Linked DNA regions of Homo sapiens: all the other regions are linked to region 1. The links come from fine-mapping of genetic effects on gene expression. A gene starts in region 1. Each other region holds a variant in brackets. All regions are shown on one strand. Distances are between the middles of the regions.

Region 1 (8,265 bases):
GGGCAGCAATGGAGAGTTTCAGAGGCCTGGGCTGGAGACTGACTGCGGTGTGACATTAGAGGGAACTTCCATGTGTCTGGGCTGGGAAACTGGAGTTCTCCACTGGGAGACATTGAGTGTATCCTTCTCTAGTTATGTTTAAGAAGGACAAAGCCTCCCTTGAAGATGAAGTGATTACTTCATTCCTGGTTCCCAAGGAAACTAAGGGGCATCGAAGATACACATTGTCCCAGAAAGAACCCTTCTGGCTGCCCTCCTCTACCCCATGGAGCCTAAAAGAAGGGGTCCAATGGTGAGCCTCCAGGTCCCAGCCTCAAGCCCAGATTCCAAATAACAACATTTCCCCATAGACAGACCCTTCTTACTGCCCCAACCTCCTGAATTCACCTCATTCTCGTAGGATGAGCCCACCACGTATAGGAAGAGGTCAATGCTGTTCTTGTAGACGATGGTCATACCCCCAAAAAATGCAATCTCACCTAGAAGTGGAGGGAGCTTTCAGTCCTGGCCACCTTGCCTGGTCCTAGCCTAGCCCCTCCTCCTCATGTATGACTCTGTGACTCTCCTATTTCCTTCTCCCCTTTCTGGAGAACCCTTGGAAAGACCAGCACTAGGGACACTACCATCAGGCAGCCCCGTGTCCTTCCCCTTATCTGCTACTCTATTTCTAGGGACTGCCTCAGGCCAAGGAGTCAACAAGCCCAGTTGTTGACCCGTTTACCTCCTGCCCACGCTCCCACCCTGTGCAGCACCTTGGGACCAGATCCAGGTTGGGACCACAACACAGTTGGCCTCCTCAGCTAGAGAGAGGCCTGGGGATGCTGGGGGGTTGGGTAGTTGGGGGAACTGGAGAGTGACAGGGAGTGGAGGTTCCCTGGAGGAAGGGAGTGGAGAACAGCAGGGAAGGAGAGGACAAAAAGCCTCTGAAGAAAGGGAAATGGCCTGTGGGTGTGCAAGGCTGATGGGGACAGATGTGTCCAGATGGAGAAGATGACAGTGTGCATCTGATAGTCTGCTGGAGGAAGAGGGGGACACTTACTCTCAGTCCGGCTGGTCTTGTTGAAGACATTTTTCTCGAAAACCATCTGCTCCTTCATGGAGGGGAATGTGTCATCATAATACTATGAGAAAGGGAAGGAGAAAGGACCATAGCTTTCCACACAGCCTGGATCCTCCCTAGATTGGGGGGCAGGAAAGAGTAGGCGCTGGGCAAGCGGGATCCTGCTTCCCTGCCCCATCTCTCCATTACTGCACCCTAGGCCTGCAGGCTCATTACTTCCTCCAAAACAAATTATTCTTTTTTAGATGGAGTTTTGCTCTTACTGCACAGGCTGGAGTGCAGTGGCACGATCTCGGCTCACCACAACCTCCACCTCCCGGGTTCAAGCAATTCTCCTGCCTCAGCCTCCTGAGTAGCTGGGATTACAGGCATGCGCCACCACGCCCAGCTAATTTTGTATTTTTAGTAGACAGGGTTTCTCCATGTTGGTCAGGCTGGTCTCGAACTCCCGACCTCAGGTGATCTGCCCACCTTGGCCTCCCAAAGTGCTGGGATTACAGGCATGAGCCACTGTGCTTGGCCCCCTCCAAAACAAATTCTGAGCAAAGAAAGTCCCAAAAAGTAGAGGGATATTGAGGCCTGCTTTTGGAGTCCCCTCCTGGTTTCTTGGAGGATCTTGTACATTCAGCAGATGTGCAGGGTGCTAAGGATTGGCATGGTCACGAGGGCACACTAATTCTACAGCACCCTGAGTCTCTACAGGAAAGACGGCAAAACCAGGAGTCCTTCTTAAACAATAATAATGATAATAACAACAGCTACTTTATTATCCCCATTACACGGATGGGGAAACCGAGGCATCAAGAAGTCAGGTAATGGCCTGGCATGGTGGCTCATGCCTGTAATCTCAGCACTTTGGGAGGCCGAGGCGGGTGGATCACCTGAGGTCAGGCGTTCCAGACCAGCTTTGCCAACATGGTGAAACCCCATCTCTACTAATTATACAAAATAAATTAGCTGGGCATGGTGGCGGGTGCCTGTAATCCCAGCTACTTGGGAGGGTGAGGCAGGAGAATCGCTTGAACCCGGGAGGCGGAGGTTGCAGTGAGCTGAGATCGCGCCACTGAACTTCAGCGTGGGCAGCAGAGGGAGACTCCGTCTCAAAAAAAAAAGAAGTCAGGTAACTTCCCCAACATCTCACAGTTGTGAGGCCAAAGCTGGGTTTGACCACTAAGGACGGTCTGACTGCAGACAGGGTTATAGTGAAGATTAAATATCTAAGAAACAATTCCTCACACATATCCCATAACTAAATTAATGTTTTTTGTTTGGGAATGGTGAGCCTCTCTCTCTGACTCAGTTTCTTAATCTGTAGGGAGGAAAAGCCTTTGGCCTTGCTGATCCACCTCTGACCATCTGCTGGGGCAAGGTGTGGTCAGCTCAGTTTTCAATTTTCTGGATGTGGATTTTGCCACTTAATACTCAATCCGCAGGCAGATTAGCCATCTCCCTAGTGGCCGCTGCTTATTTGAATTTCATAAAAACAAAAAACTTTCAGTTCCAAATAAACAAACAGAAAATCTATTTTTTGGGATGGGGTCTCACTCTATAACCCAGATTGGAGTGCAGTAGCTCGATCATGGCTCACTGCAGCCTCAACCTCTCGGGCTCAGGCAATCCTCCCACTTCAGCCTCCCGAGTAGGTGGGACTACAGGCACACACCACCACGCCCGGCTAATTTTCGTTTTTTTGTTTTTTGTTTTTGTTTTGTTTTGTTTTTTGTAGAGATGGGGTGTGCCATGTTGCCCAGGCTGGTCTGGCACTCCTGGGCTCAAGCAGTCCACCCGCCTCGGCCTCCCAAAGTACTGGGATTACAGGCATCAGCCACTGCGCCTGGCCTTACAACACATTTCTTTTCTTTTTCTTTTCTTTTTTTTTTTTTTTTTGAGACAGAGTTTCGCTCTTGTTGCCCAGGCTGGAGTGCAATGGTGTGATCTCGGCTCACTGCAACCTCTGCCTCCCAGGTTCAAGCAATTCTCCTGCCTCAGCCTCTCGAGTAGCTGGGATTACAGGCGCCCACCACCATGCCTGGCTAATTCTTTGTATTTTTAGTAGAGACAGGGTTTCACCATGTTGTCCAGGCTGGTTTCGAACTCCTGACCTCAAGTGATCTGCCCGCCTTGGCCTCCCAAAGTGCTGGGATTACAGGCATGAGCCATCACACCTGGCCTTATAATGCATTTCATAGCTAATGCAGATGCTATAGCTCCCCTACAATTAATTGTGTTGACAGCAGAAATTTATTTTTGGATTATTTTAGTTTGGTTCGCTCAGGCCATGTTTGCTAGGATAGATAACAGCTAATTGAATGGGGGTACAGTGAAAACCACCTTGAGCTTCATGTCAAAAAACCCGAGTTTGCCTGTGAAACCTGTGAAATGGGAGAAGTGAAAAAATTAAATAAGTAAATAAATAAAATTTGAGTTTGGATCTGTTAGGATATTAATACTTGTGACCTCAGGCAACTCACTTAGCTTCTCTACCCCTCATTTTCTTCATCTACGAAATTAAAGAGTTGGATTATACAGTTTCTAAAATCCCATCTGGTTCTAAATCCTTAGACTCCTTAGACTAAATCGTTAGTGTTTACCAAGCTGTAGAACAAAAGTGGAGGTTTAGAGACAAACCCCAAAGAACAAAAGAACTTGTGTGGGGGTTTGGGGACTAAGACTCCTGGGTCCCAGGCTCAACACTCCACTGACCCATTAGGCAGAACCTTCCCATGCCCAGGTCCAACTGGCCAGTAGCAGGATGATAAGGAAACATTTCAGGGAACATGAGTAGAAATAGAGGAGACCCCTCATTTCAGGGAGCAGCACCTTGACAAGGCAGGAGGATGAGAAGGACCTCTGGAGGGGTCTAAGCTGAGCTGCCCTGAGTCACAGAGATCACAGTGGAGTTTCTCCTGAGACAGGAGTGTCAGCTGAGTGGGAACTGTGTCCCTCATGGGTGGGGTCAGAGGTTACCTTGGCCAGCAGCCGGCGCCCGTCATTATCTAGGATGAAAACAGCCTTGATGGTGTAGAGGGAAGGTTCCTGCAACTGACACCGGAGAGGAGAGTTCCGTTTGGCCCCTGACTCGAGGTGGACACCCTGTGTCTATGGGATCTGCTGGCCCTAGGATACATCCTCAGGCCCCAGCAACCCCAGTCCTCAAGGTCCACAGCTGGTTCTGCCCAGCCCTGTGCCACATGGGCCAACCCAGGTGCCCACTCCACTCCCAGGCAGATGTTCCACTGCAGGCCCCGAGTGGGCGCTGTGCCCGTTGGGTGCAGAAGGTCCTTCCGGGCCCAAGTTCTGTCATGCACTGACTGCTCCAGAGCCCGAGTCGGAGTGTATCACAGAACCTGGGCCGGGGGGGACAGCGGGCCGAGCCTCCTTCTTCCAGCTGATCCCTGGCCGGGCTGGACCTGCGCTATCAGCGCGCCCCCAGGCCCTGGCCCGGGTAGACTCCAGAAGCATGCCCATCACCCACCGGTGATGGGAGCCGAGTCTGGGACGGACAGGCCACTCCTTACCCTCCCCGCGGAATCGCAACTCACCCGCCACCCCCACTCCAAACGGACCCAGAACTTCAGCCCCGCGCCGACGGACTCAGGACAGGCCTCCTCTCCGGTCGGCGCTGGGACGAACTTTTCCTCCCGGGTCCTGGGGCCAGTCAGGGGTGACACAAAGTTCCCAGCCGCCGGGCGCGCGAGTTCTGAGTTGGCTGCTCCCCCTAACCCTGCTCTGTCCCTGCCCAGCTCCCGCCGCCCGGGATCCCCGCGCCCGCCCGCTCCGTACCCGCAGCCCCGAGGGCTCCCCGGCTCGAGCAGGCGGCGCCGGGCCCCCGGCCTGGGCCGCCGCGGCCCCCTCCCCCGGGTGCGGACGTGGCCAGGCCTCGGGCCGCTGCATTCCGCTCGCCGCCTCGCACTGACAGCGCCGCCCGCCGCCTGCCCGCCGCCGCCGCCCCGCCTCCGCGCCGCCCCGCGGCCCCCTCTCGCGCGTGGCCTCCCTTTCCTCGGGGCCCCGTCCTCTTGCTCGTTCTCCCCCATCTCCCCTCCCGCCCTCACCCCACCTCTCCTTCCCCCACTTCTCCTCTCCCTCTCTCCTCCTTGGCTCCTTCCCGAGTCCCTTACATCCCCGAACTCTGCATCCTCAGGGTGCCCCAAGACCAGCCCTCGTCCTGCTTCCTGCCTGCTCTCCGGCCTGTGGCTTTGGTGTGCGCCAGTGTCTATAGGCTGTCCTGGGGCCAGCAGCAAACACAAGCAAAGCCCACTTTTGTCTGTTGACCTCTGGTAGGTACCATGAGGACAAATACGTCAGGTCACCCTTTAGATCTCAGGGACAGGGTCTATAAGCAAGAGCAAATGAGGACAGTTCTGGGGACACCCCTCTGTGAAGAGGCTTTCTCATTCCTCTCTCACTACTTGCAGAAGGCAACCATGGGCCCGGAGACACCTCCCCAGGCTCTCCTAAGTCACAGATATGGCACCATCAGAAGCAAGACAGACGCCCAGCAGCACAAATGCTCCACCAATGACATCGGGCTTTGCAGCATGTTTTGGTTTCTTTGGTCTAAGTCTAACTAAGACAAGCTCTCATTTCAGGGTACACTGGCAAGTGGGAAATTCACATCCCAGTGATATGTTAGTGCTACGTATGCATTTACCGGTAAAAACACTGTGCGTGTATTTTACATTTGACACCTTCACATCCATTATCTAATATAGCCCACACCTGTAAGATAGGCATAATGGACCCTCATTTTAAGCAAAGAGAGACTCAGAGGTTGTGTGACCTTTTCAAGACTATACAGCTAGTTGACTGGGGATAGAACCCAGATTTTTGACTCAAAATTTCTTCCCTATTCTTCTCTTCAAGCCCTCTTATGTTGTGGACCACAGTCACTTACCCTAGATGGTTACAGAATGGGGTTTTCCTCACTGAATGCATCAAGTCTTCTTATCTTCAAGCCTCTGCTGAAATATAATTACCAAAAGGTCCTCCTGACAGCCACCATATCTGACTTGATAGGTCTCTCCTGTCACATTCTCTCAGTTCCTATTTCTTTCTTTCATTGCACTTTTTTCAATCTCTAAATATTATTTTTACTAATATTGCTTGTTTGAGACACGGTCTCACTCTGTTGCCCAGGCTGGAGTGCAGTGACTCGATCTGGGCTCACTGCAGCCTCAACCTCCTGGGCTCAGGCAATCCTCCCATCTCAGTCTCCCGAGTAGCTGGGACCACTGGTGCATGCAACCACTCCCAGGTAATTTTTTATTTTTTTATTTTTTTTATTTTTGTAGAAACAAGGTCTCAAGTCTGGGCTCAATGGCTCACATCTGTAATCCCAGCACTTTGGGAGGCTGAGGTGGGCAGAAGGCTTGAGCCCAGGAGTTCCAGACCAGCCTGGGCAACATGGTAAGATCTAGTCTCTACTAAAACTACAAAGAAATTAGCCAGGTAGGGTGGTGTGACCTGTAGTCCCAGCTACTCAGAAGGCTGAGGTGGGAGAATCACCCGAGTCTGGGGGTTCAAGGCTGCAGAGCCATGATCATGCCACTGTGCTCCAGCCTGGGCAATGGGAGTGAGAATCTGTTTCAAAAAAAAAAAAAAGAAGAAGAAGAAGAAGAGAAAAAGAAAGGAAGAGGAGGAGGAGGGGGAGGAGGGTGATCATGATCAAGGTCTCACTATGTTGCCCAGGCTGGTCTTGAACGCCTAGGCTCAAGTGATCCTCCCACCTCAGCCTCCCAAAGTGTTGGGATACAGGCGTGAACCACCATTCCCAGCCTTTACTAGTTTGTTTATAAGTGTTCCTTCTCCCCGCCCAGACTTTGAGCCCTGCAAGAACCAATGAATGTGACTTTTTGTTTGTTTGTTTTTTTGTTTTGAGACAGGGTCTTGCTCTATCACCCAGGCTGGAGTACAGTGGTGTGATCATAGTTCACCGCAGCCTCAAATTCCCAGTGTCGGCCGGGCACGGTGGCTCACGCCTGTAATTCCAGCTCTTTGGAAGGCCGAGACAGGCGGATCACGAGGTCAGGAGTTTGAGACCAGCCTGGCCAACATGGTGAAACCCCATCTCTACTAAAAATACAAAAAAATTAGCCGGGGGTGGTGGCAGGTGCCTGTAATCCCAGCTACTCGGGAGGCTGAGGCAGGAGAATCACTTGAACCTGGGAGGTGGAGGTTGCAGTGACCCGAGACCGCACTACAGCACTCCAGCCTGGCCAAGAGAGCGAGAACCTGCTACCCACCCACCCACCCACACACACACACACACACAAACAACTCCCAGGATCAAGCCATTCTCCTGTCTCAGTCTCCTGAGTAGGTGGGACGATACACACGTGCCACCATGCCTGGTTATTTATTATTATTTTTTTTAAAGGCAGGGTCTTGCTGTGTTGTCCAGGCAGGTCTTGAACTCCTGGGATCAAGCCCTCCTCCTGCCTCGGCCTCCCAAAGCCCTGAGATTACAGGTGTGACCCACCTCACCTGGCCAATTATGTTTGTCTTGTTCACTGTGGAATCCCTAGTGTTTCTTACAAGGCTTGGTGACAGATTTTTTTTTTTTTTTTTTGAGACGGAGTCTTGCTCCGTCACCAGGCTGGAGTGCAGTGGCGAGATCTCGGCTCACTGCAACCTCCGCCTCACGGGTTCCAGTGATTCTCCTGCCTCAGCCTCCCGAGTAGTTGGGACTACAGGTGCACACCACCACGCCCAGCTAATTTTTGTATTTTTAGTAGAGACAGGGTTTCACCATGTTGGCCAGGATGGTCTCGATCTCTTGACCTTGTGATCTGCTTGCCTCGGCCTCCCAAAGTGCTGGGATTACAGGCATGAGCCACTGCACCTGGCCGATGACAGATATTTAATAAGCATTTGTGAAGTAAATGAATAAAGGAATTCAGGATGAGGGAGATCATGTATAAATATTCACAAATACCAAATTTTAACTAATAATAATTAAAATGTACCTATCAATGATACCATATTGGCTGGGTGTGGTGGCTCATACCTGTAATCCCAGCACTTTGAGAGGCCAAGGCGGGCAGATCACTTGAGACCAGGAGTTCGAGACCAGCCTGGCCAACATGGTGAAACCCTGATTCTACTAAAAACACACAAAAATCAGCCAGGCATGGTGGCGAGTGCCTGTAGTCCCAGCTACTTGGGAGGTGAAGGCAGGAGAATCATTTGCACCCAGGAGGCAGAGG
Region 2 (8,000 bases), 63 kb before region 1:
TCCTTAATAAGTCTCCCTTTGATATGGCCTTTCCACCCTTACAGCCTCTCCTCTAGCCACTCGCTGCCTCAAACCATCTACGGTATAGAGGTTGGCCTGCCCGCGGAGCCGACTTCATCTTGAAATTCTTCATCATTTTGTAACAAGCAGCTGTGCATTTCCATTTTGCACTGGACCTCACAAATTACGTTGCCCGTCCTGCCTGCCTGTTGTTGCTTGCACCCCTCTTGCAGTTTGTGGCCACCTAAGCTTTGTCTGTGTAGTCTCCTCCACCTAAAACTCCTCTTCCCACATCACCCAGCTATCTTCAGCTCTTCGTTTAGACTCAATGTAGGTGTTCTCTTTGGGACGTCTCACCGACTCTCTTCCTTCCCCTTCCCTGCCCTAATCGCCCAACACGTTGCAGGTGCTCAACCATGTCTATTAGAGAAACTGAATGAGGAGGCAAAGCATGACAAGTGCCACAAGAGACCTGCACACTGCTCTGGATGGTAAAGCGACGCAAGGAGGGAAGAAGGTATTTGCAACGGCCTCCCAGATCGGCGCTAGGACCCCGCCAGCAGACGTCTCAATCTGCGTGGAGAAGACCCAGTGCCCGCCAGGGGAAGCGGCTGCCAGGCTGGGCTCTCGAGCGCCGCCTGTCGCAATCCCACGGCCGCTGCAGCGCACCCCCTCCCGTCCCCTGCCCTGAGCCCGCCTCGCGTCTCCAATTGGCTGTCTCCATTCTCCCGCCCCTCCCGAGCTCAGCCATTCGGAGCCTGGGGTGGGCGGGGCTTGAGGCCTGAGTGGAGCGTAAACCCTGATTGGCTGTACGGAAGGCGGCGACGTGGCCGAAGGATGCCCGTTTGTGTCTAAACGGAGGCTCGGCCACAACGCCACTGGATTGGTGGTAGGGCGGGGCGGGCCACAGTCTCCAGCCTGAAGCGGAAGTGGAGGAAAGATGGAGGTGTGGGGACAGGAGCTGGGTGTGCTGGGGACTGGCCGCGGACCCCTAACCTGTGTCTCCGGTCTCCCTCCGGAAGCGGCTCAACCCAGCCCATCGCTCTGGCCCCGTTCTGGCCCTGCAGGGTGGTGGTTGGGACGTTGAAATGAGCGCGCGAGTGGTACGTCCTCTCTCCGCGCTCACGCCCCCCTCCTCACCGTGTTTCCCGCCAGGACCATCAGCACGTGCCCATCGACATCCAGACCAGCAAGCTGCTCGGTAGGAGGGGGCGCCACCGCGCAGCTGGCTGTCGGGGGGAGGCCTGTGCGTTGCCCCCTGTGTCCAATAGCCGGGAGCTCTGACCCCTGAAAGCCTGAGTCGAGATGCTGACCACTGGCCTCGTTCTATGCCCCATCTGTGGCCAGACCTGCTTCCCTGATAGCAGCGGGAACGAACCATATGTACAGTCTGTTTGACCTGCGTTTTCTCCTTTAATAACATATGTTATCGTATCATTCAGGGACAGGATAAATGACTCGCTTTAAAAACAGTCAACCACTGCCGGGCGCGGTGGCTCATGCCTGTAATCCCAGCACTTTGGGAGGCCGAGGTGGGCGAATCACCTGAGGTCAGGAGTTCGAGACCAGCCTGACCAACATGGAGAAACCTTGTCTCCATGTCTCCATGACTAAAAATACAAAAAAATAAAAATAAAAAGTAGCCGGGCATGGGAGCACATGCCTGTAATCCCAGCTACTCGGGAGGCTGAGGTGGGAGAATTGCTTGAACCCCGGAGGCAGAGGTTGCGGTGAGCAGAGATCTCACTATTGCACTCCAGCCTGGGCAACGAGAGCGAAACTCCATCTCAAAAAGAAGACAAAAAACAGTCAACCACTAAGTGGCACATCTGAATTGGAACTTAAGTCTGTCTGACCCACTGTCCATGCCTTTTGCATTATGCCAGGAAAAAAAAAAAAAACCTCATTTAAAAAGCTTCCACCTCCCCCTTGATTTTAGGAGGAAGAGGGACCTAAGACCCAGTTGCAAATGAAAACCTTTTAGTGTCCAGGCCATCTCCAGGTTGTCTGTATGGGGCTTACATACTTCCTCCCCAGTTCATAGTCAGGGAAGGCCTCTTCATCTGATCACACAGCTCCTGGCATTTTAAAATGCTTATTGGATTCATGGATTTGATGCCAATCTTGTCCTTAAGATGGTGTCTGTTTGACTACCCCAGTCCGTTGCTTCTAGTTCTGTGACATCAACAGAATTTTTCTTTCTGAAAACTTTACAGGAATATAGCAGAGAGAGTATAACTGATACTAGTGTGGGACCCCAGCGTTTGACCGGTTGGCAGAGTTCAAGTTCTGAATTCACCACTCTGTAGTGCCATTTAGTCAGTCCTGCTTGGTGGTCACGGGGGAAGCTTCTTTAGCCTCCCTTCAGATTTGTACTGGCCCTTCAGCCCATGTGCAGTCTTGGTGTGTGAGCTTGTTCTTGGTCATGAAAAGGACCAATAAAATGACCACCATTCATTGAGGGTTTTTTTTTGTACCAGGTGCTGTTTTAGGCACTTGACATGATAAAAATGATCACTGTCATTTTTTGAGTCCTTGCCGTGTCTCAGGCACACTGTTCAGTGTTTTACCTGCATTCCCTTTTCTAGTCAGTGTCTTATTATTCCCCATTTTACATGTGGGAAAACTGAGGCACAGAATAGTAGACTTGCTCAAGAAACTTGATAACGAGAACCCAGGACCATCTGACCACAAAGCTCAGCTCTTAGCTCTCACTGAGGAAATATGCATGGCTCTGAAGCCACAAATCTGGGCCCAGACTTTGAGAGGTCAGTCCCATTGGTATTCACATGTACAGGGTGGTACTTCACTGTTCACAACAGAGTCATGTTATCTAGTCCTTAGGGCGCTGTAGGTATTAGGGGCTTTGCAGCTGTTCATTCATCCAGTACTTGGCATAACCATCTTGTATTTTCCATTGTCATGGTTAACCCCAGCCCTGAGGAAATGGAAGTTGAGCAGCATCCTCTTGTCAGGAAGAAAGATATAATTACCCATAGAAGCAAAAATATTATGGGGAATTGAGAATGGTCAAAAGTGGCACTTTCAGGACCAATTTAAACTTTTTGTTATCCCTGTGTTGAGGCAATTGCTCTA[T/C]AAAAATCACACTGCTAATGAAGTCAGATTGTCAGAGCCTGGTTTAGCCCCAGGCATCTCTTTGGGCTTGTCTTTATTCCCATCTTCCCATGACCCCCATACTTTAACCAATGTAAAGAAAACTTTTAGACTAATTTCAGTGTATTTCACTCGAATTAGTGATGGAATTTTGGTGATGTGAATGGGAATGCTCTAATTTGGGTGCTTCTCATGTAGATTGGCTGGTGGACAGAAGGCACTGCAGCCTGAAATGGCAGAGTCTGGTGCTGACGATCCGCGAGAAGATCAATGCTGCCATCCAGGACATGCCAGAGAGCGAAGAGATCGCCCAGCTGCTGTCTGGGTCCTGTGAGTGCTTAGGGGCTGTCACTGGAGTCCCCTCTTTGCTGAGGTAGTATGTATCAGCTGAGCTACTCTCTTGTTATTTAGCCACCAGGGCTGGCCTTTAGAGAGGGAGCGATTTTTATTTGAGGTATAGATGCTGGCTTCTTCCACTATGAAATGATTTAGGGAAAAGCTACACACTAAAGTTACTGGCAGTATATTATACATGAATCAGCCACCTGCAGTGCCCAGAGTAGGTGAAGAAGATACTTTAGTTCTCGAAATCCCGTCTCTTGCTTTCTAGACATTCACTACTTTCACTGCCTAAGAATCCTGGACCTTCTCAAAGGCACAGAGGCCTCCACGAAGAATATTTTTGGCCGATACTCTTCACAGCGGATGAAGGCAAGTGTGGGCCAAGGGCCGGTAGTATGTGGTTGGGGACATCCAATCCGAGGAGTCATAGCCTCTGTGGTCTCTCTGAGGCTCCAGTGGGGATGCCTACATAGAATATTTCCTGAACTTTCACTCTGTCTCTATAGTTTACTCCAAAAGTGGATCCTATCCCTGAGTTTAATTTTCAAACCCACTGCTTTAGGGATTGCCTGCACTCTTAAAGTGGGTGGTCCAGCCAGCAGAGTTGAAAGAAGGACAAGGAGTTTGTGTTTGATGTGATGTAAAGGCTGGGAGAACTTACCCTGTTTAGGGATTGAGCTGGGATGTGGCTGTCGAGTGCTTTTCTGGCTTAACATTGTTTTTCTGTTCTTACTCAGGATTGGCAGGAGATTATAGCTCTGTATGAGAAGGACAACACCTACTTAGGTAAAGTGGCCCGGCCTGGGAGCCCTGGTATCCATGGGGAAGCCCACTCTCAGAGTTCTGAGATACCAGGCTTATAGGAGGCACAGTCTGTGAGTGGGAAGAGACTGGAGTGTAGATGTTGCCCATTTGTAGGTGGTAAAATCAATTGTTTTTGATGGAATTGATTTTCCCTGAGTGGAGTGCTGGGGGAAGGAGGAGGTCCAGGCCGGTAGTGGCCATTCGCCGTGCCTCAGCGAGCAGGTGTGTGTGGGTCCTCCACCACTCACCTCTTGGTTAGCGGGAGTGTGCTGCCCCCACCCCCACCCCCGCACCCCCATTCTACACAAGGCAGAAGAGGCACGGGTTTTTCTGGGAGCGAATATCAAGTGCCTGAGAGCAACTACAGGACTAACTGTGTTTGGGTTGGGTGTAGTATAAATAATAATAATGGCTAATATTTCCTGAGCATCTACTAAATGCAAGGAATTGTGCTTGGTGTGTCATGTGGATTCTCTCTTGCATCTTCATGATAAATGTTATTGTCGCTGTTTTACCGATGAGGGTTGGATTAGAGGGGTTAAACAACTTGTCTTAGGCTCCACAGCTGGGAACAAGTGGGGCTGGGAAGCTGACTTCGTGCTCTTCACCACCACAAAGGATGTGTGTGCATCCTGGGGCATGCCTGCCTCATGTGGGGGTGTCCTGGGCTGAATTTCCTGGGCACTTCTCAGTGGAACTCTCTAGCCTCCTGGTTCGGAATGTCAACTATGAGATCCCCTCACTGAAGAAGCAGATTGCCAAGTGCCAGCAGCTGCAGCAAGAATACAGCCGCAAGGAGGAGGAGTGCCAGGCAGGGGCTGCCGAGATGCGGGAGCAGTTCTACCACTCCTGCAAGCAGTATGGCATCACGGTGAGCGGCGGCAGCCTCTTCGCAGCCAGAGGACACCTGGGCCCCTGCTTGTCTTCCTCTGACCCCGTCTGACCCCTCAGCCTGGTTGCACCCCCTTTGGGCCAGTGTCTTACTTTTCTTCGGTCTTTGGATGTTTTCTTCAATCTGTTGGACTCCACCTCTTCTCCCCTCTCTAGGGCGAAAATGTCCGAGGAGAACTGCTGGCCCTGGTGAAGGACCTGCCGAGTCAGCTGGCTGAGATTGGGGCAGCGGCTCAGCAGTCCCTGGGGGAAGCCATTGACGTGTACCAGGCGTCTGTGGGGTTTGTGTGTGAGAGGTAGAGAGGCCTCAGCTTCTCCTGGTGGGGGTGCTTTGCCTGTGTTCCCCAGCTCATGACCCTTCTCCAGTTGTCTTGTTCCCATATAACATTTGAACTCTTTACACACCTGAACCTGTGGGGGCCTTGCCCATTTGACCATGTGGCCCAGGCCAAAGCCCAGTGTTGGCCTTACGCATGGTCGGCAGGAGAGTCAGTTGTGTGCTCTGTTGAAGCCCCACAGAGCAGGTGTTGCCAATGCTGCGGTTCGTGCAGAAGCGGGGAAACTCAACGGTGTACGAGTGGAGGACAGGGACAGAGCCCTCTGTGGTGGAACGACCCCACCTCGAGGAGCTTCCTGAGCAGGTGGCAGAAGATGCGGTAAGATGGGCCTTGTGATGAGCTGTAGGAGTGGAGTGGGAGCTGCTTGTCCCCTCCCCACCCCCAACAGCCCAACCCAAGACCCAGAGAGAAGAAGGGAGGATTTCTGTGAGAGTGACTGTAGGTAGAAGGGCCCAGGAGGCCCTACTCCTTTATTTTTCTGAGTATAGGTGAGTGAGTGCCACAGAGGCTTTGCAAGGTGGTTCGCTTTGAACTCGGAACCTCCATCATGTGAGCTCTCTGAAGATGGGCTTTCTTTGGGGTAGCTTAGAGGCCACTGCATTTGAACAGTGTGCTCTCTACAGAAGCAGCTGAGGCCTGTGGGAAGGCAGCCCCACCCTCCTTTTTAAATTAATTTATTTTTGAGACTGGGCCTTGCTCTGTTGCCCAGGCTGGAGTGCAGTGGCATGATCCTTGCTGACTGCAACCTCTGCCTCTCAGCCTCAAGCGATCCTCCCAAGTCAGCCTCCAAGATAGCTGGGATTACAGGTTTGCACCACCACTCCTAGCTAATTTTTTATTAACATCTTTGTAGGGACAGGATTTTGCCATATTGCCCAGGCTGGTCTCAAACTCCTGGGCTCAAGCAATCCACTATCCTCGGCCTCCCAAAGTACTGGGGTTACAGACATGAGCCACCATGCCCGGCCCTTTTTAAATCCATCTTCCATGAGCTAACACTCTCTTTCCCTTTCCAGATTGACTGGGGCGACTTTGGGGTAGAGGCAGTGTCTGAGGGGACTGACTCTGGCATCTCTGCCGAGGCTGCTGGAATCGACTGGGGCATCTTCCCGGAATCAGATTCAAAGGTGAGGAGGCCTTCTCAGTCTGTCTCTCTCTGATCACTACTCTAACCATAAGAAAAGTGTCATTTGTGTCTGTAACGGCATCACTTGAAGTTCATAGCTCTAAGACCAGGTATAGTCCAAGGGAGGCAGAGTTTCACACGTCACATGTCAGAGTTTTGTTTTGTTTTTTGAGACAGAGTCTCATTCTGTCGCCCAGGCTGGAGTGCAGTGGTGCAATCTCGGCTCACTGCAACTTCCGCCTCCCAGGTTCAAGTGATTCTCCTGCCTCAGCCTCCCAAGTAGCTGTGATTATAGGCGCCCACCACCACACCCCTCTAATTTTTTATTTTGTTTGTTTGTTTGTTGAGACAGAGTCTCACTCTGTCGCCCAGGCTGGAGTGCAGTGGCATCATCTTGGCTCACTGCAACCTCTGCCTCCCGGGTTCACGCCATTCTCCTGCCTCAGCCTCCTGAGTAGCTGGGACTACAGGCGCCCGCCACCACGCCCGGCTAATTGTTTTGTATTTTTAGTAGAGATGGGGTTTCACCATGTTAGCCAGATGGTCTCGATCTCCTGACCTCGTGATCCGCCCGCCTCAGCCTCCCAAAGTGCTGGGATTACAGGCGTGAGCCACCGCGCCCGGCTAATTTTTGTATTTTTAATAGAGACAGGGTTTCGCCGTGTTGGCCATGCTGGTAACTCCTGACCTCAGGTGATCCACCTGCCTCGGCCTCCTGAGGTGCTGGGATTACAAGCGTGAGCCACTGCGCCCAGCCCATGTGAGAGTTAAATTTTGATGTCCTTTTTCTTGGTGTTTGGTACAGGGTGTAGGGGTAAAGGCAGGTGGGAACACTACAGAGCAGGGATGATGGGCCATACTGCCATTTTTGGCACCTAAGTCAGGGCTGCAAATCCTTAATAGAGTTGGAATGTGCAGCCATTGACCTCATCAAGGGCTTTGGTTTATTCTGGCTCCTTGGCTCAGGAAAATTCTCCCCCCATTGCTGTGGTTCTTTGCTCTCCTTCCAGGATCCTGGAGGTGATGGGATAGACTGGGGAGACGATGCTGTTGCTTTGCAGATCACAGTGCTGGAAGCAGGAACCCAGGGTAAGTGCACCATCCCCTGCAGCCCTGGCAAAAGTGGGGTGCTCAAGGGCCCCCACGTGTCTAGAAACAAAAAATGCAGCGCTAAGATGAGGCTTCTTGCACATTTAACTGTTTCTCAAAACCTTGATGAGGATGTGAGCTGAGGGGGACCAAGAGAGGTTTTTTTTTTTTTTTTGGAGACGGAGTTTCGCTCTTGTTGCCCAGGCTGGAGTGCAATGGCATGATCTCAGCTCGCTGCAACCTCCACCTCCTGGGTTCAAGCTATTCTCCTGCCTCAGCCTCCCGAGTAGCTGGGA
Region 3 (8,265 bases), 430 kb after region 1:
GCACGAGTGGAATGGCCATTGAGCTACTCCATGCAATGAAAAGTTCTAATGGGGAGTGGGGACACTTCTCTCCCCAGTCCCATCCCATGGCTTGGCTGAAAATTTTTTTCTTTTGGGAGATCACTGGCTTTCTCCAGCAACCTTGACTATAAGGATGAGGATGAGGAGAAAAAATAAGAACTGCCGAGTGTGGTGGCTCACGCCTGTAATCCCAGCACTTTGGGAGGCTGAGGTGGGTGGATCACAAAGTCAGGAGTTCAAAACCAGCCTGGCCAAGATGGTGAAATCCCGTTTCTACTAAAAATACAAAAGAAAAAAAAATTAGCCAGGCGTGGTGGCGAGTGCCTGTAATCCCAGCTACTGGTGAGGCTAAGGCAGAGAATTGCTTGAACCAGGGAGGCAGAGGTCACAGTGAGCCGAGATCATGCCACTGCACTCCAGCCTTTGCAACAGAGTGAGACTCTGTCTCAAAAAAAAAAAAAGTACACAGGGGAGGTTGTGGGGAATTTGGAATATTCCCTAAGGATTTCCTCCATTGAAGAGGTCTGCTTTAAAGTACTGGGGGTCCACAAACTCACCCCATTTCCAGCTTGGCCTTGGGAGAAGAGGAGGACAGAGAACAGAATTCTGGATTGTTACTAGGTAGTTGGGCTGCATCAGGAAGACATTTTGGTAGAAGGAGAGGAAAGAGAGGTAGGAAGTGGGAAGGGAAGCACTAAGGGTTTTTTTTTTGACCCTGATCCCCTTAGCTAGACAAGCTCAGTGGGGCTTAGGATGGAGGTCAGGGATAGCCTAAGATCCTGTTACTGAAAGGGTAGTCTCCAGCCAGCAGCATCAGCATCACCTGGCTCTTAGGCTTCACCCCAGACCTACTGAATCAGAAACTGCATTTTAATCCCTAGGTGATAAGTATGTCCAATAAAATTTCAGAAGCATTAGCCTAGATGCTTCAATGGGAATAACTTCTTGCAGTGAGCTATTGAGGAACTGTGCTGGATAATCTCTCTGCCCTTCCAAATCCACTTGCCATCCTTATTCCCCTGCTCTTGGGACTAAGAAGTGAATTGATGAATTCGCTTCCTTTATTCATTGCTTCAACAGGCTCCCTTGTCATCTGGCTTCTGGTTGGGCTCAGCCAATGGTCAGTGCTCAAGAAGCAGTGACTTAAGTGACATTAATAGTGACTTTACCAGCCAGGCAGGGTGGCTCATGCCTGTAATCCCAGCACTTTGGGTGGCCAAGACGGGTGGATCACCTGAGGTCAGGAGTTTGAGACCAGCCTGGCTAACATGGTGAAATCCTGTCTCTACTAAAAATACAAAAATTAGCCAGGTGTGGTGGCATGTGCCTGTAGTCCCAGCTACTCAGGAGGCTGAGGCAGGAAAATCGCTTGAATCTGGGAGGCAGAGGTTGCAGTGAGCAGAGATCGTGCCACTGCACTCCAGCCTGGGCAACAGAGAGAAACTCCATCTCAAAAAAGAAAAAAAAATAGTGACTTTACCTGAAGTTTTTATAGGGAAACAGGAGAATGCATTTATAATTTTTTATGCAGCAAGCCACTGGAAAAGGCTGAGGGTAGCATCAGGATATTTATTCCCCCAGCTGGGCCTCAGGTTGACAGTGGCTATGTTCCTCAACTAAAGGCCACAGCTCCTGTGGGCCAACCCTCTCCTACAACTCTCTCCAGACTGTGAGGACTGCTCCTTCCCAATCCTTTAGGCCTCGAGTGGTCATTATTCCCTATTCTGGCTAACCGCACCATTTCTTATGGGTTTCTCTGAACCCTGCCCATATCTTTGTAAATATGCCTGCATTAAACTTTACTCAGACAAACCCCATTTGAGTGTGCCATCTGTTTTCCAACAGGACTGTGATCAATAAGGTACCCTGGAGAACAGAACCAGAAAGAATTCTTGCTCATGGCTAGGGAATTGACCTAGATGAGTATTTTCAATTAAAGAATCTTTGAGATCGAAATAACCATTTTTCAATTCAGCATGTTATTTCTTCGTGAATCTTGTTTTTAGAAATGAAAAATATATCACAGAAGCACTTGGCACTTTCTCCAACATGCCTCAGCTTCTGTGCTCCGGCCTGCCTGAGTGCAGGTGCAAGTGCAGGTCACAAGGAGGGAAGTGAAGCTGCCACATTCTTGCTCATGAGCACTGATTGTTAAACTGTCAAGAATTTTGCAAAAATAAATTGTTTTTAAAAAGAACTAAAATTGGCCAGATGTTGTGGCTCATGCCTGTAATCCCAGCACTTTCAGAGGCCGAGGCAGGCACATCACCTGAGGTCAGGAGTTGGAGACCAGCCTGGCCATCATGGTGAAACCCTGTCACTACTAAAAATACAAAAATCAGCCAGGCATGGTGGTGGGTGCCTATAATCCCAGCTACTCAGGAGGCTGAGGCAGGAGAGTTTCTTGAACCCAGGAAGCAGAGGTTGCAGTGAGCTGAGATCACACCATTGCACTCCAGCCTGGGCAATAAGAGCAAAACTCCGTCTCAAAAAAAAAGAAAAGAAAACAAACTAAAATGGTATAAAGTTACAATAAATTATATGTATATATATACAAACATATATATTTATGCACACACACACACACACACATATATATATAGGTTTTTTTGAGACTGAGTCTCATTCTGTCACCCTTGAACCTCCCAGGTTCAAGCGATTCTCATGCCTCAGCCTCCCAAGTAGCTGAGATTACAGGTGTGTGACAAAATGCCTGGCTAATTTTTGTATTTTTATTAGAGACGGAGTTTTGCCATGTTGGCCAGGCTGGTCTTGAACTCCTGACCTCAAATGATCCTCCCGCCTCAGCCTCCCAAAGTACTGGGATTATAGGTGTGAGCCACCGTGCCTATACGTGGCCCAAATTATATTAAAAGAAAAAAAGATACTAAATATCATCACTTCCTAATTATTTTGCTAAATTTCATTGCTATCTAACCTTTTAGGGTTATTTATGTCTGGTGTACCTAGGTGGTAGAAACACTATAACTGCACATCTCTTCCTAATCCTGTTTTCAATGATGTCATGAAGAAAGTTGAAATCAGGCATGGTGGAATTATTTACACCAAGGAAATAGACGAATGCAACAAATCAGGACTTAACTTTTTTTCTGGAAAGCTGTTTGTTAAATATTTTCCAGGAGAAAGGGAATCCTTTGAGATGATCATGTTATTTGGACTTGTGTGGTTTTAAGGGAGATCCATATGCTTGGTTTCTATTGTGAGAAAGCAAAGTGCAATAGACTTGGCACTGGACTAGAAAGGACAAACTAAACTGTTCTCTCTAAACAGGAGTGAAGGTTAGTTCTCTTTGGCTTCTTAGGACAGGATGGATTAAGTAGACCTTTTAGCATGGGGAGATGTGTATTATATTAATAAATAGCTTTCTTTCACAGTTGTTTGTTTAAAATCTCTGAAAGTACTTTACATCTATGACCTCTTTCATCTATCAAGTATCTGAGTGACCAAGGAAAGAAGCAATAAAGATTTTTGTGTTTTTTTTGTGACAGAGTCTCGCTCTGTCACCTAGGCTGGAGTGCAGTGGCACAATCTTGGCTCACTGCACCCTCTGTCTCCTGGGTTCAGGCAATTCTCCTGCCTTAGCCTCCCGAGTAGCTGGGACTAC[A/G]GGCGCACGCCACCATGCCCGGCTAATTTTTGTATAGAGATGGGGTTTTGCCATGTTGGCCAGGCTGGTCTCGAACCCCTGGCATCAAGCAATCCACCTGCTTCAGCCTCCCAAAATGCTGGGATTACGGGAGTCAGCCACTGTGCCCAGCCAAGATACTTCTTAAATATAGAAAAACTGGGGACCCATGGAGGTTAAGTGACCTTTTTAACCTCAAAAACTGAGGCCCAGAAGGGCAACGCACTACAGTATCCAGAGCCCTCCTCCAACAGCTGTCACTTGTGTGACCTTGAGCAAGTTGTCCATATTTTCTGAGCCTGTATCTTCATCTGTGAAAAGTTATAGGGGAAATAAATGAAAGAATATGTGTAAATCACCAGATTTTGTGATTGATGTTCTAAAAATTGTGAGTTTAATAGATATACTCAAAGATTTTGTAGGGGAGAAAGAGAGAGCTTACATTATGCAGCACAGACAACTTGAAGGGGCACAATGGGCATCATTGTTGTTAAACACCCATTTGTCAATCCAACGGTATGGAGTTTCACTTCTCCCTTCTCCACACCTGGCCTCTCTCCATCCCGTTGGTGCCTTGCTCCTCCTCCTCTTTTTTCTCTTCTCTCTCTCATGCAGAGCAATATTCTCCCTTCTCTGAAGTTGTGAGCACATCTGCCATGTGTTAAGCACATCAAGGCATTCTTCTAAGCAGAATTCCCTTCCTAAGAGAAATTCTGTTAGTAAAGTTGTTACTTTATTATACATACGGAATCATTTGCAAAGGGTATTCCCATTCACTATTTCCTTTGAATCTCAGAGCCACCCTGTGGCAAGAATTACAATTATAACCACTTTACATTGGGAGATACCGAAGCTTAGGGAATTGCTCAGGGTCATAACTTAAAAGTGGCTGAGGGGCTGAGCGTGGTGACTCATGCCTGTAATTCCAGCACTTTGAGAGGCTGAGGCAGGAGGATCTCTTGAGCCCAGGAGTTCAAGACCAGCCCGGGGAACATAGTGAGATCTTGTCTCAACAAAATATTTTTAAAATTAGCTGGGGGTGTTTCTCCCAGCTACTTGGGAGGCTAAGGTGGGTGGATCACTTGAGCCTGAGAGGTTGAGGCTGTGGTGAGCCATGGTCACACCACCGCACTCCAGCCTGGGTGACAAAGCATAAGAGACCCTGTCTCAAAAAAAAAAAAAAAAAAAAAAAAAAAGACTGAGGCAGGAATTGAACCTGGCAAGGTACCTCACAGCATGCTGGTCGTGCTTCCTCACTCTTCAGAGGCGGCATGTTCTAGTTGGCCTCCTGAAGGAAACTACTAATTTTGTTTTCTCTGCCATTCAGTGAGCATCTAGATTGAGAGCCCCACATAGGTCACTTCCTGAGCAAGATGTCAGGAGCTGGGTTAGGGTTGTAATTCCTTTCCTAGCTTGTTGTACAGCCTCGAGCAAGGAGAAGATTTGAGAGGCAGAAAGGTAGCGCGTTGGGAAAAAATGCTATGTTCCAGGCATTATATGCTAGAACTTTACATTGATTACTTCATCTAATCTTCACTAGAATTCTGTGTGAGATAGCATCAATATTTTAATTTTAAGTAAAATTAAATTGTGGAAACTGAGGCTCAAAGAGCTGATGAAATTTGTTCATGGTCATACGGATAAGAAATGATGGAGATGGGATTTGAATCTTTGTCTCTGGGACTCTAAATTCTATCTGCATTTCCTCATGTCATGTTGTCCCTCTGGGCCTTGGGGCCTTTTTAAAATGTAAATCCAGGCAACTAACTCCTCTGAATCCCACCTCACATGTCTGTCAACTGCTGGATTATGTTCCTAATCCGGCAGGGGTCGCAAGGCTGGGAAACCTTCATGCCACTATCAATCTTCTCCCCAGTTCAGAGGTCAGAGGCTCTCTTTACTCCAGCCCCCTCCTCCACCTCTGGGATGGGGCCACATTTCACCTGAGGATTAACAGCCACACCTCTCTACTTCTGCGGAGGATAGAGGGCGACTATGAAGGATGGTGTGTCTCCCCACCCACATCTCATACCTAGCCTGGGGCGGACTGTTCATTAGGGGCAGGCAGGGAGGAGGCGAACCAAGATAGCACAGAGATCCATCAAGGTGCCAAGCTGACAGGTGCACACACCTGTTTCTAGCCAGAGGAGCTAGAGGCCAGTGGGAACCTGCCTCATAGGAGAGGACTTTGTCTGGAAAGAGAAGGGAGGAAGAAAAAACAACAACAGCAACTGAGAGTGGATCACTCTAATTACATGGCTCTAAATCACCGAGAAGAACCTTGGCTCAAACATCCAAGTGGTGGAGGATGGATTTTTACCTTGACTCCCGCTAATTTTCATTGATTTATGGGGCTTGAAAGCATTTATTTTCTGCTCAGAGGCAGCCCAGCTCCTGCTAAGGAGGTGCAGGACTCCCCTAAATGCTGTCACCATGGAGAGGCGAGCAGCAGAGGTGGCTCTCAGGGCAACAGCTACATTTCCTGCTCAGTTCCAGTTGCTACCTAAGAGCTGGGAGGGTCCAATGGGAGCTGCTGGCCCTGCTGTGACAGCCTCCCCACTCCTGTCCCCAGAGCCTGCCTGCTTCTGGTCACAGCTACTTGAGTTTAACACTCCTGGCAGCTTAGCACTCTGGTTTTTATGTGTGAAGCCGTAATATTTGGTGAGCTGTGAGATGAGGTGGCAAGATTTGCAACTGGCATTCCCTTCCGGCCCTGCCCTGTGATTCAGGTCAGTGGTGTGACAAAGTGAGGCCACCCCTCCTCCCCACTCTGGCTTCCCACCTGTGGCTATTTGGAATGATGTCTTTCCTTCGTTTTCTCCTCTTCCCCCATCCCATGCCTGATAGACTCCCGTAGCTCTTGGCTTTCAAAAGGGGGTATTCAGTCCTCACATTCCAAACCATCTGCTCAATTAAACATTTTAAACAGCAATTCTGAGTCTGCCCAGGACCACATTCCAAAAGGTGGGTGTCAGGAGATAGGCTTTCTAAATGTCAGAGGCTCTGTGAAAATCTTAACTGATGAGGAAGTGGGCCAGCTAGAAAGCATCACGTTTTCTTGGAGATTAGAAACATAAGACTCAGTGTCCATACTTTCAAAATTCCTCTTCCTGAGGCACATGATGAGTCATTTGAGCATCTCTAGTCCTTTTCTCCAGGTCTGTATTCCCTGAGCCTTCCTGCCCTGTTTCCTGAGCCAGGGTTGAAGTTCAGATTCCTGTGGGTCCCCCCAGGCATCCTCCTTATCTGCAGTTGTCTTAATTTCTGTCCCATCTTCCCACCCATTCCAGTTGCAGCTGCCTTCCAGGAATAGAGTAAGATTTATCATAATATGATGGTACAAGGAGGAAGAAAATTAAACATTTTTATGAGATAGTTTTGAGTATATATTAATAGAGGCCAGGCGCAGTGGCTCACGCCTGTAATCCCAGCACTTTGGGAGGGTGAGGCAGGAAGATCACTTGAGGTCAGGAGTTTGAGACCAGCCTGGCCAACATGGTGATGCCCTGTCTCTACTAAAAATACAAAAATTAGTTGGGCATGGTGGTGGGCACCTGTAATCCCAGCTACTGGGGAGACTGAGGCAGGAGAATCACTTGAACCCAGGAGGCGGAGGTTGCAGTGAGCCGAGATCATGCCATTGCACTCCAGGCTGGGCAACAGAGTGAGACTCATTCTCAATAATAATAATAATTATTATTATTATTATTATTATAGAGCTTTGTAATAAAATTATTACTGATTCTGAGCTAGCTGTAGGCCCAGCCTTCAAGAAAACAGGAGCAGAGAGATCTCCTAAAATGTCTTTAAAACTGGGGAGTCTTCAGCCTAGACAACATAGCAAGACCCTATATTAGTCCGTTTTCACGCTGCTGATAAAGACATACCCGTGACTGGGAAGAAAAAGAGGTTTAATTGGACTTAACAGTTCCACATGGCTGGAGAGGCCTCAGAATCATGGCAAGAGGCGAAAGGCTCTTCTTACATGGCAGAGGCAAAAGAAAATGAGGAAGAAGCAAAAGCAGAAACCCCTGATAAACCCATCGGATATCGTGAGACTTATTCACTATCACGAGAATAGCACGGGAAAGACCAATCCCCATGATTCAATTACCTCCCCCTGGGTCCCTCCCACAACATGTGGGAATTCTGGGAGATACAACTCAAGTTGAGATTTCAGTGGGGACACAGCCAAACCATATCATTCTGCCCCTGGCCCCTCCAAATCTCATGTCCTCACATTTCAAAACCAATCATGCTTTATCAACAGTCCCCCAAATCTTAACTCATTTCAGCATTAACCAATATCAGACCTCATCTCTACCAAAGGTAGAAAAAAATTAGCTGGGAATGGTGGTGCGCACCTGTAGTCCCAGCTACTTGGGAGGTTGAGGTGGGAGGATCACTTGGCCCTGGGAAGCGAGGCCTCAGTGAGTTGTAACTGCACCACTGTTCTCCAGCCTGAGTGATAGAGAGAGACTCTGTCTCAAAAAAAAAAAAAAATTAAATGGAGAACATCTTACACATTTGGTATGGATTGGCACTATGACTTAGAGGTAGTAGAATTAGTCAGAAAACTTCTGGACTCTTGCAAATAGTTA

Which allele goes with the higher level. Positions count from the first base shown, and alleles are read on the strand shown. Sizes are in standard deviations (SD) of each study's normalised expression. Not every link is listed here.
In carriers of allele A in region 3, the expression in monocytes of the gene that starts at base 4,974 in region 1 tends to be higher than with G alone (moderate effect, 0.45 SD a copy in Fairfax 2014).

The links. PIP is the estimated chance that this variant, and not a neighbour inherited with it, causes the effect.
Region 2: its variant is fine-mapped to the expression of COPZ2 in whole blood (INTERVAL, PIP above 0.99).
Region 3: its variant is fine-mapped to the expression of COPZ2 in monocytes (Fairfax 2014, PIP 0.95).

The regions. Positions count from the first base shown.
Region 1 is chr17:48,032,824-48,041,088 of GRCh38, forward strand. COPZ2 (coat protein complex I subunit zeta 2) reads right to left here and starts at 4,974. Exons shown (of 9, transcript NM_016429.4): 1 at 4,844-4,974; 2 at 4,028-4,102; 3 at 1,040-1,121; 4 at 388-479. The coding sequence starts at 4,954. MIR10226 (microRNA 10226) reads left to right here and starts at 59; the gene lies at 59-128. MIR152 (microRNA 152) reads right to left here and starts at 4,424; the gene lies at 4,338-4,424. RefSeq lists an enhancer at 6,091-6,140.
Region 2 is chr17:47,970,207-47,978,206 of GRCh38, forward strand. CDK5RAP3 (CDK5 regulatory subunit associated protein 3) reads left to right here and starts at 907. Exons shown (of 14, transcript NM_176096.3): 1 at 907-946; 2 at 1,156-1,201; 3 at 3,313-3,444; 4 at 3,725-3,825; 5 at 4,194-4,242; 6 at 4,953-5,131; 7 at 5,308-5,447; 8 at 5,663-5,807; 9 at 6,506-6,616; 10 at 7,626-7,704. The coding sequence starts at 941. RefSeq lists a silencer at 558-847 and enhancers at 1,269-1,896, 5,193-5,693. The variant T/C (reference allele first, on the strand shown) is at 3,097.
Region 3 is chr17:48,466,373-48,474,637 of GRCh38, forward strand. No RefSeq gene overlaps it. Among named protein-coding and RNA genes, the nearest start is that of SKAP1, 40 kb to the left of the region's middle. The variant A/G (reference allele first, on the strand shown) is at 3,647.